2 linked regions of the Homo sapiens genome follow. The protein of the gene in region 1 purifies or fractionates together with the protein of each later gene. This does not show direct contact. Each region holds a gene or a part of one and is shown in the gene's direction. Other genes may lie near its edges.

Evidence for each region. Proteins that work in one complex are often made in the same cells at the same time.
Region 2: the proteins of IPCEF1 (region 1) and TRIM11 purify together in Homo sapiens (affinity purification with mass spectrometry; 2 studies listed by BioGRID and IntAct, with this or other methods). This does not show direct contact.

Annotation. Positions count from the first base shown.
Region 1 is NC_000006.12:154,346,092-154,351,349, reverse strand, and holds part of IPCEF1 (interactor protein for cytohesin exchange factors 1), read left to right. Parts: intron 1-5,258. UniProt on the Homo sapiens protein: Enhances the promotion of guanine-nucleotide exchange by PSCD2 on ARF6 in a concentration-dependent manner.
Region 2 is NC_000001.11:228,399,474-228,404,731, reverse strand, and holds part of TRIM11 (E3 ubiquitin-protein ligase TRIM11), read left to right. Parts: intron 1-2,570; coding exon 2,571-2,666; intron 2,667-3,537; coding exon 3,538-3,768; intron 3,769-5,258.

The DNA of each region.
Region 1 (5,258 bases):
GGGACCTCAGAACCATTCCTGGGTAGTTCACAACCACAGTCAAGATATGTGACTGTTCCGTCACCACAAAGATCCCTCATGCTGCTCTTTCATAACAATACCCAATCTAATTTTAAAATATTCAATTTCCATTTTGAGTATCATTGGACCCATATTGATGGGGCCTTCTATTAGGCTCAATTTTTTAGCGGGAACACCGCAGATCAAAAGGCTAGGAGACTTGAGTGTCCTGCCTGTAGTATATGATAGTTTTGCGCTACAAGCAAGCATTTAACTTCTCCACGCTTGAGTTGTCTCATCTATAAAAGCTGAGATAAAAATACCAAACCAGGCCAGGTGGGGTGGTTGATGCCTGTAATCCTAGCACTTTGGGAAGCGGAGTTGGGAGGATCGCTTGATGCCAGGAGTTGAAGACCCACTGGGCAATAAAGCAAGATCCCATCTCTACAAAAACAAAAAAATGTGGCCAGGTGTGGTGATGTGTGCCTGTAATCCCAGCTACTCAGGAGGCTGAGGCAGAAGGATCTCTTGAGCATAGGAGTTTGAAGCTGCAGTGAGCTATGATTGTGCCACTGGTGTACAGCCTGGGCAGCAGAGTAAGACTCTGTCTCTGAAAAAATAAAAAAACTAACCAATTGCGTTGATGTATGGGCCAAATGAAAGTAAGCGTATATACTTAGAAGAAAACAAAAATATTATAAACCAATGGAGCCCTTCTTGGAAGCTAATACAGGAGGTAAAGAATGAAAGTAATTTTATGTGCTAGTAATAAGCCCATCTGTATTGCTGGCAAGCACTTCTAGGGGCCAAATTGGACGTGACTCATTTCTATGAAGTTAACTTGTGGCATTGGGCCTCAAACAGTAGAGTCACTTCATCATTGAATGGGAGTGAATAAAGACACTCTCAACAATGAGACACATTTACAAAATGAAAATCAGGCTATTGTGAAATCTATAAAAGATTTTCTTTCATAAATGGAGTCTAGATAGTGATCCCAGATTATCATGACAATTTGGTTACTTGTTAGATATGGAACATCAGCGTCTATTTGGGGGGGATATTTATTTACCTCAGTTTGTATTGAAATAAAAGTTCAAATATTCTGAAAATGATGCAATGTGATGGAACTTTGATCCAAATATAAAATCTAAGGCTGCAATTTAAGTGTACAGCAAGTGGAAACTTCTCAATAAATGGATGTTAGATCATTTTAGTGGTTCATCTGTAATCGTTGATCACTTTGATCCATAAATTTAGGCTGGTACCTGCATAAGTACTTTAATGACAGCATAAATAGCCAGGATTTCAAGCATATTCTTGAGTTTCCCTGTGACATAAGAATCTCTTAAATCCCCTTTTCAGCAGAATTTGAATTACCCTAATTCCTATTACATGATTATCCCCAGCAGAACAACATTCTTTTAACAGGTAAATATCATTATAGGAAGCTAATACATTTAATCTATGTAAAACTAAAAATATCTTTTTTCTCCTCCTCTTAATTGATCCATATTTAATTTTCTTTAGACTTGTTAATTTTATATAATCTTTTTCTAACTATGCAGTAGAAATCTGTGACTGGATAGATTTTTTCAAATTTGGACAGGGTAGAAGTTCTTTTTTTCCTGACTATTGTGAAGGAAACTGCATTCTTCAGAGTTTTATGCACTGATCTGTAACGCCAGAGAGGAATAGAACATTTAACTACTTATAGGCAAATGTACATATATTAATAGAGACTGAACCTTAGTCTAAAACAGGAAAATAGGCCAGGCACAGTGGCTCATGCCTATAATCCCAGCACTTTGGGAGTCTGAGGTGTGAGGATCACTTGAAATCAGGAATTTGACCCAGCACTTTGGGAGGCTGAGGTGGAAAGATCACTTGAGCTCAGGAGTTTGAGAACAGCCCAAGCAACGTATAGCAAGACCTCGTCTGTACTAAAATAAATAAATAAATAAAATAAAATAAAATAAAATAAAATAAAATTAGTTAAGTGTGGTAGAGCATGCCTGTAGTCTCAGCTACTCAGGAGATGGAGGCAGGAGGATCACTTGAGCCTGGGAGATTGAGGTTGCAGTAGGCAATGATCGCACCACTGCATTCATTCCAGGGTGACTGAGAGTGACCCTGTCTCAATAATAATAATAATAATAATAATAAGATAAAATAATACAAACCTCTGAGAAAGGAAAAAAGATGAAACCAACTCAAAACATTTCCCAGGAACCTTAATTTAACATTATTCACTCCTAAAGAATATAATTCTTTGTAAAGTGTCACAGTTTATCCAGAGATAAGCTGTACTTTATACAAAGTTATGTTTGAAGGAGAAAACCTTTAATTATTTGAAAAACTAAGCAAACGGCTGTAAACATGAAAACCATGCATTTTAGGCTACTTGTTTATGATTATTCTGTTTGAATAGCTCAGACTACAGCACACTATTGGATAAATCTGTAATAGTTTTATGGACTGATGAGAATATATATAATCTCATCCATTTCTTGAACATGTTTGAAGATTCTACTATTCTAATAGATTAAATGGTTGTTGCAGGAACGTTGCTGTTTATTCGCTGGGAGTGCAAGTCATTTGTAACAACTTTGTTCTTTCCACCGATTAAAAGCCTGAAGCAAATGATATTAAAGACCTTATTTTCTGGTTCCTTGTTAAGGCACAAATCCCAACCTCTTTTTCCATCCTGACAAAAAATAGTCAAGCAGTTGTTCTTACTAGTGGTTGTGAATGCTGACCATATAATATGATAAGGACCCACTTACGAATATTCAACCTTCACCAAATACTTATTGAGTACCTAATATTTTCCACGTAATGTGCCAGGTATTTCACTGCAATTAAATGGACAAGATCACCTTTGAAATTCCCCTGGAATCGTGTGAATTAGTATTGCCTCTTGGTTAGACTCAGTTATAGCCAGTCTATCAAAGAGAAGTGCCTGAACTTGAACTCTCTTGGTCAAATACACTCACAGTTTTCCAGCTAGAGCTGGATTTTACTCTGGAACACAGCTACCAGAGTTTTCCACACTTGGATTTTCAACTTGATTAATCAACTAGAGCAGCTTTTGCGTAGGTAATGGGGACTTGAGGGAGGGACTGTGGAGCAAGGTTTGAGCCAGGCACTCGAGTACTATTCAGTTTTATTTTGTGAACACTCACAAACATTCCAAAGTTATGTACAAATTAGTTGCCTTGAGAGGAACGCTGGAGTCCCAGATATTCTGAGCTGAGAAGCCAGCACGGGGAGAGAGACACCGAGTCACCAAAACACAGTAAGTGGGCTGAGCAATGAAGGCTCAGCGACTCCTGATTGCCTTGAAGTGACTTTGCTTTCAAGTTGGCATTAGCTGTAGTCACAGGGTCCTAGACATGGGGTGTAGTAATTTCCACCGGGCATTGCATCCTCTTTGTGTTCTGTGCATTGGGAGCAAGTTAGCAAGCGATCCCTCTGTCAATCTCAATGGACTTCAGGCATTGAGCACCAAACCACTGTCCACTCCCCACGAGCTCACGTTTCCTATCATTGTGGAGGTGGCCTTTTGCCAATGGATGGATGCTCCTGGCCTATGAAATATTCTAGGCAATGCCTGGAACTTTCTGGGCAGTAGGAGCCACTGAGGTGAGCCTTAGAGCAAGGCAGAAAATAGAGTCCAAGAGGACCCCTTCTTTCTATAGGCTGGTGAAAAAGTAGTCTTTAATGGCAAAACCTGCAACTACTTTTGCACCAACCTGATAATTGCAGCTTTTCCAACAGGCCATGCAGGGCTTCCCCAGCCCCACTGGCTGTGTGGCACATGGAGGTAACATGTACTGTCCTCTTGCTGTCTGCAAGGGACGGTGTTAAAGGCTTTACATTCATTATCTAATTTTTTAATCAAATAGCTCTAGGAAGTGCTGTTATTATTAACTAGTTCCCTTTCTCTGATGAGAAAACACAGGTTCAGGGAACTTCAAACCTGGCTCAAGGTCACCCAGAAATAGTACAGTCAGGGTTCCAACCCCAGCAGTTTGACTCTGGGGTCAGAATTTGAGCCTAGGCTTATTTGACCTGAGCGTCCAGTATATAGCTGTCCTGAGGGAATATACTATAATATAAGGAAAAGGATGCTACATAATTTCTTATTTTTGGATAAGGTTGCTTTGTGCTTGTCCACCTTTCCATTCCTGGAGCTGAGAATGTGTATAATCCAACCCCAGAGAGGCCAGAGGAAGCCTGTTTGGGTGAATAATGATTTTAGGAGTGCTCAGCCCAGATTTGCCTGAGCCTTGAGGAAAATCTCATTCCCAAAGACACTTCCAGATCAAAGCTGAGGAGAATTGGGGTTGAGGGTGATGGAGCATTTGTTTCTAATAATATAGATTGAAAAGGGGAAGAAAACAGAGATTAAAAAATAGGAAGGCAGAGTTTTGAGAGGATATGCTTGGATAGGGATAGAGTCTGGCCACCCAAATCTTACGTTGAACTGTAATCCAAATTGTAATCCCCACGTGTTGGGGGAGGAAACTTGTGGGAGGTGATTAGACCATGGGGGCTGTTCCTCATGTTGTTCTCATGATAGTGAGTGAGTTCTCACAAGATCTGATGGTTTTATAAGAGGCTTTACCTTGCTTTGCTCTGCACTTCTCTCTCATGCTGCCATGTGAAGAAGGACATGTTTGCTTCCCGTTCCACCATGACTGTAAGTTTCTTGAGGCCTCCCTGGCCATGCAGAGAACTGTGAGTCAATTAAACCTCTTTCCTTTATAAATTACCGAGTCTCAGGTATTTCTTCATAGCAGCATAAGAATGGACTAATACAGATAGTCCATCCATTCTTTCTAATTATTATACAACCAGAAAAAGTTCTTGAATGAAAGAAAAGATTAGTATATGCCAATTTAGAAAAAAGGAGGGAAGAAATAATCTCTTTAGGCAAACACTTTGAATTCAACCTCATAGTAAAATGTGTTATCAACTTTCTTGATATCTAGAGCTTAAATTTTTTAAAATAATTATTTTTCCTTAGTACATATAGAATGCATTTTATTGCCAATGATACAGATAAGCAAGGAGAAGATAAATACTTTTCATGATCCTATAACCTTGAAATAATTATAGTTAACATTTTGATGTAAAATCTTCAATGTTTTTGCTTTTTAATAATGTACATGTGAGGCCAGGTGCAGTGGCTCACAGCTGTAATCCTAGCACTTTGGGACACTGAGGTGGGCAGAGGGCATGAGCTCAGGAGT
Region 2 (5,258 bases), on another chromosome or scaffold:
CAAGATAATGGTCATTGTAGTAAGGTCTGTTTAGGCAGAATCATCTCCCAGGATTAGAGTGCCCTCCTCTTCCTGGTAGAGAGAGGGTGCCTTTCTCATGGGGAATGAATACCCTACTTTTAGGCAGATAGGAGTACAGAGAGCTCTTCCTGCATCTGCTTTTACTCAGAATAATTCTTGTACCACAGCGGTATATTTGGGGATGACATCCTGTTCTTCACTGCCTTAGAGCCTAGGTTATGTTAACCACAGCAAACTGCTTTTACCTGCCCCCATGGGCCTAGAAAGCTCAGTCCCACCTATGGGGCTGTGTGTCCACTTGCCAGAGCTGGGGCCCATTAGCTCCATGACAGGTTCACTCCTTGCCTGGCCCTGACCTGGGGTCATGACAGCTGAACAAGCCCCAGGCTGGGTTGCCCCGAGGTGGTAAACAGGGAAGTCCCAGTAAGCTCCAGTTCCAGGAAGCAGCACCATGGGAGAGAGAAGATGGCCCCCAGATCTCTCTGGGTTGTGTGTCAGATGGCACTTGTGTGGGGAGGGGGTTTGCCACAGGAAGGAGGAGGCCAGGGAAGATCCCAGGCCTGCACCAAGCCCCAGCATCCCAGTTCTGACTACACGCAGGGTAAGAGGTTTCTGTTCTGATCTGGCCAGAGACACAAAGATGCAGGTACCTGAAATGCAAGATCTTTGCCATGCTGGGTATGTTGTGCTGCTTTACAGCCCATTCCATCTGATCAAATGCTGTTTGTAACCTTAGTGTTGAAAACTGAAAACGTTGGCCAGGTGTGGTGGCTCACGCCTGTAATCCCAGCAATTTGGGAGGCCGAGGTGGGCGGATCACCTGAGGTCAGGAGTTTGAGACCACCCTGGCCAACATGGTGAAATCCCATCTGTACAAAAAATACAAAAATTAGCTGGGTGTGGTGATGGGCACCTGTAATCCCAGCTACTCAGGGGGCTGAGGCAGAAGAATCACTTGAACACAGGAGGCAGAGGTTGCAGTGAGCCGAGATCGTGCCACTGCACTCCAGCTTGGGGGACAAAGCGAGACTCCGTCTCAAAAAAAGAAAACTGAAAATGTCCCGTAGGGACTGAGGCATTGAGGGAGAAGTGAGAGGCACTGGGCCAAGTGTTTGAGGTGGGGTTGGGGTCACAGGGGCCAGGCCTGAGTTTTCTGGAACAGGTCGGCAGCAGTGAGGAGAGAGGCCTGGGGACAGGGACCGCCATTTGGGGTTCTTGTAGCTCACGTGAGAGCTGAGCCTAGGCAGAGACAGTAAAGCAGTTGGACATGTCCTTGGTGCTCCAGCGGTCTTCCCGAATCGTGAGGCCAAGTGGTGAACTAAAGTGAGCACCTGGAGCCAGGCAGCTGGGCTGAAGTCCTGGCTCTGCTACCGGGGCAGACTTCTGGACCCTCCCAGCACCTCCATCCTTCCAGAGCGTGGATAGCGAGAGATGAGAGCCAAGACTTGGGGTGGCTGAGAAGCAAAGAGGTGTGGCCAGCACAGGGCCCGTTGCTGATAAGGGTGTCAGATGGGGTGGAAGTGAGCAGACCCTTCGAGAAGTGGGTTCAGGGCACCCCAAGCACACACAGTACAGTGAGCTTGTGTACAGGATTTTCACTGCTTCCTGGTATGCACAGCATGAGGAACCGTGGGAATGAGAATTAAGGACCAAGAAAGCAGAATGGAGGTGTACCCATCCTGGAGCTTATTACAGTGATAGCTGATGAAGCTGAAAATGCACAAGGTCCCGAGTGGCTTGGAGAAAAGATAGGGTGGGTAGCCAGGCATGTCTGTCCGTGCTGACTGTCCTACCAAAACACCATGGTTTGCACATGGCAGATGTATACAAGCTGGAGACTCACAGCTCTGGAGGCTGGAAGTCTAAGATCAAGCCCTGGCAGGTTTGGTGTCTGGTGAGGGTGCTTCCTGGTTCACAGACAACACCCTCTCACTGTGTTGTCATATGGTGAAAGGGGCGAGGGTTCCTTTATAACACTAATCCCATTGTGGCGGCACTGCCCTCCTGACCTAGTCACCTCCCAAAGCCCCCGCCTCCTAACATCATCACACTGGGTGTTGGGATTTCAACCTATGAATTTGTGGGGGCATAGGGCAGAATTTTTGGACCCCAGCATAGGCTTGGTCCAAGGCCCTTATGTGAGCCAGCAGGTGAGAAGGAAGAGGAGGAGGAGTAGACACTGGCTTGGGAACAGGAGAGCTCAGCACCTTCAGAGCCAGCTTGGGGACAGATGGGGTGGGCAGCCAGAACCCTTGAGGTAGCTTTGCAAAGGGGGGTGAGGCCTGGGCTAGGGTAGCAAGGTCGAGGACTAGAAATGCCCCATATGAGAAAAAGGAAAGAATGTGGCTGGGGCTGTCAGCCTCTGGCAAGAGGCTGCCCACCTACCATGAGGGCTCACGCTTATTGGAGGGCATTGAGTTCCCTGATTCACCAGGCAGATTTCAGTTTGTCCCCATTGTCTTTGAGGAGGGGACAGGGTGTCAGGTGCAAAAGGGCAGGCTTCTGTGACAGGACTCATGTCTCATGGTCCTGCCTGGCCTCTCCCGCAGGCGAAGCTGGAGAAGTCACTGGAGCATCTCCGGAAGCAGATGCAGGATGCGTTGCTGTTCCAAGCCCAGGCGGATGAGACCTGCGTCTTGTGGCAGGCAGGTGCTGGGGCTCCCAGGGTCCTGGGTGGCAGGGTAGGGGGTGAAGGTCCTGTATAGGAGACCCCAGGGGGCGATGCTGGCCAGGCACACTTGCCCTTGGCGCCCCAGGACCAGTCACTGCTTCAGCCTGGCCCCACCGAGCCCACTGAAGGGCTGGTCCTTTCCCACGTGCACCTGTCCTGCCAGGTCGTGGGCGTGGGCTCCCATACTGCAAGGGCCCCATCCTGGGGTCCCAGCATGCTTGGGTGGCAACTCTCAGGTGTATTTAGGGTCTGGGCCCTGGAGGTAAATTTGGAGGTTTTGAGGGACTAGGTCATAGATGTGGGATTCAGCCATCCTGAGGAGTAGATTTGGGATCTGTCCAGTTCTGGGGTAGATTTGGGGTCTGGGAGGCTCTGGGTGGTGGATTTGGGATCTGGGAAGCCCCAGGGGAGAATTTGGAGGTCAGGAGGGACCCTGGGTGGTAGATTTGTAGTCCAGCTGGCCCCAGGTGGTAGATGCAGGGTTCTACCAAGCCAATGGGTGGATTTGGAAGTTGGGGAGGGACTAGATAGTGGATTTGGGATCTAGTCGGCCCTGGGTTTAGATTTGGGGTCTAGCCAGTCCTGTGTGGTAGAATGGGATTTGGCTCTCCCTGAGTGGTGGATTTGGGGTTTGGGAGGTGCCACAGGTGGGTTTGGGGTCTGGCCAGCACCAGGTGGTGGGTTTGGGGTCCTGCCACACCTGGTGCTGTGCTTTGGCTTTAGCAGGCCCCGGGGGTGGGGTTGGGTGCAGCCAGGCCTCTGGGTGGGCTTGGGGTCTGACCAAACTTGGGGTCTGGCTGGGCCTGGGGTCTGGCCTCAGCTGTCCTTCTCCCTGGGCTCCACAGAAGATGGTGGAGAGCCAGCGGCAGAACGTGCTGGGTGAGTTCGAGCGTCTTCGCCGTTTGCTGGCAGAGGAGGAGCAGCAGCTGCTGCAGAGGCTGGAGGAGGAGGAGCTGGAGGTGCTGCCCCGGCTGCGGGAGGGCGCAGCCCACCTAGGCCAGCAGAGCGCCCACCTAGCTGAGCTCATCGCCGAGCTCGAGGGCCGCTGCCAGCTGCCTGCTCTGGGGCTGCTGCAGGTGAGCTGGGCGGGGAGCAGCCATGGTGGCCACACGGGCATGGCCTGGCCACACTGGGGGAGGGAGAACCAGAAAGTGCAAGAAGCAGGGGCAGAGAGGTTGTCTGGGCTGAGAGGTGAATGGCATGGCTGGATGTGCCTGGCTGTTGCCTGTGAAATGCTGAGTCAGCAGCAGGACAGATGTCCCACCCCCAAAACCCACGTGCCGAGAAAGGGAAAATCAATTTTCCTCTGTAGATGTAAACAGTTGATGTTTCTTAAGTGATTACATAAGGTCACTCCATCTCGTCCTGACTGACACTGCTGCTCCCTGTGGGCACAGCAGAGTGGGCATGTGCTCGCTGGGACCACCTTGGGCCTCCCATAGGATTCCTGCCATGGTGTCCCCAGCAGGAAGTCCTCGCCCTTCACTCTGTCTTCACCCCGCTGGCACACCCCATGCATCTCCATTATGGGGGGCAGTCTCCTCCTCCTCTGCTTCCAGGAGAGTCTTTTCCCATGTGTGGGCTCCACTCCCTGAGCCGGCCCCCTGGGCCTGGGCTTTCCTTGGTGCACCCCCAAACCAGAACCAGTGGACGCCCTGGCCTGTGGCCTGGCGGCAGGTCAGGGGGCCTGGAGTCAGCTCTCTCCGCTTGGCAAGCGTGCACTGATGAGGACTGACGGCACTCCCATGCTGAGAGGCCCCGTGTGGGCTGGGAGTGTCTGCTATCATCTTCCCGTGGGGTTCAGCTGGATGTTTTTCCCACAAAATGGAGAACGTGTTCCATGCCCAGCATGGTGTAGACTCAAGGGGCCCCAAGATTCAGAGGGAAATGGGCCCCTGGGCAATTCTGGCTCCCACAGAGGAGAGAGGCCGTGTGTGAGTGAATTCAGCCACTGGTGGGGCAGGGCTGCCAGACCCAGGTGGAGCCCACAATGCTGCAGATGTGGCTGGGCGGCTTTGCACAGGGGGTGACCTGCTGCCGGCCTCTGGAGCCCAGCAGAACATCAGTCCAGGCACCGGCTCCTGGTTTCGATTGTCATTTCTATTGTAAGCTTTTTTCTGTTTTTTTGTTTTTTGTTTTTTTTTTTTTGTTTTTTTTTTTGTAGATTTAAGGGGTACAAGTGCAGTCAGAGTGTAGCCATCACCCGAATGGTGCACACTGTACCCAGTAGGTAGTTTCCCCCACCTCCAAGTCTGCAGCATCTGCTCCTCCACTCCGTGTGCCGCGTGCACCAGCTTGGACATCAGCTGGCTTTGAGCCTGGGAAGCGGGAAGGACGCTCGGCTAGCGTCTGTAGAAAGACTGAGGAATATTAGGAGAGGGTCCTGTGGTCAGTAAATTGTGGGGTGGGGAGGTACCCAGAAGACTGAGGAGGAGCCCTCAGGGAGGGCAGAGAGGACAGGTGTTGGAGAAGCCAGGAAGGGTTTAGAAGGAAGGTGAGTTGACCTGGAAATGGGGACCCACAGGGTTTGTGTGAAGATGCAATTTGGGCTTTCAGCTGAGACATT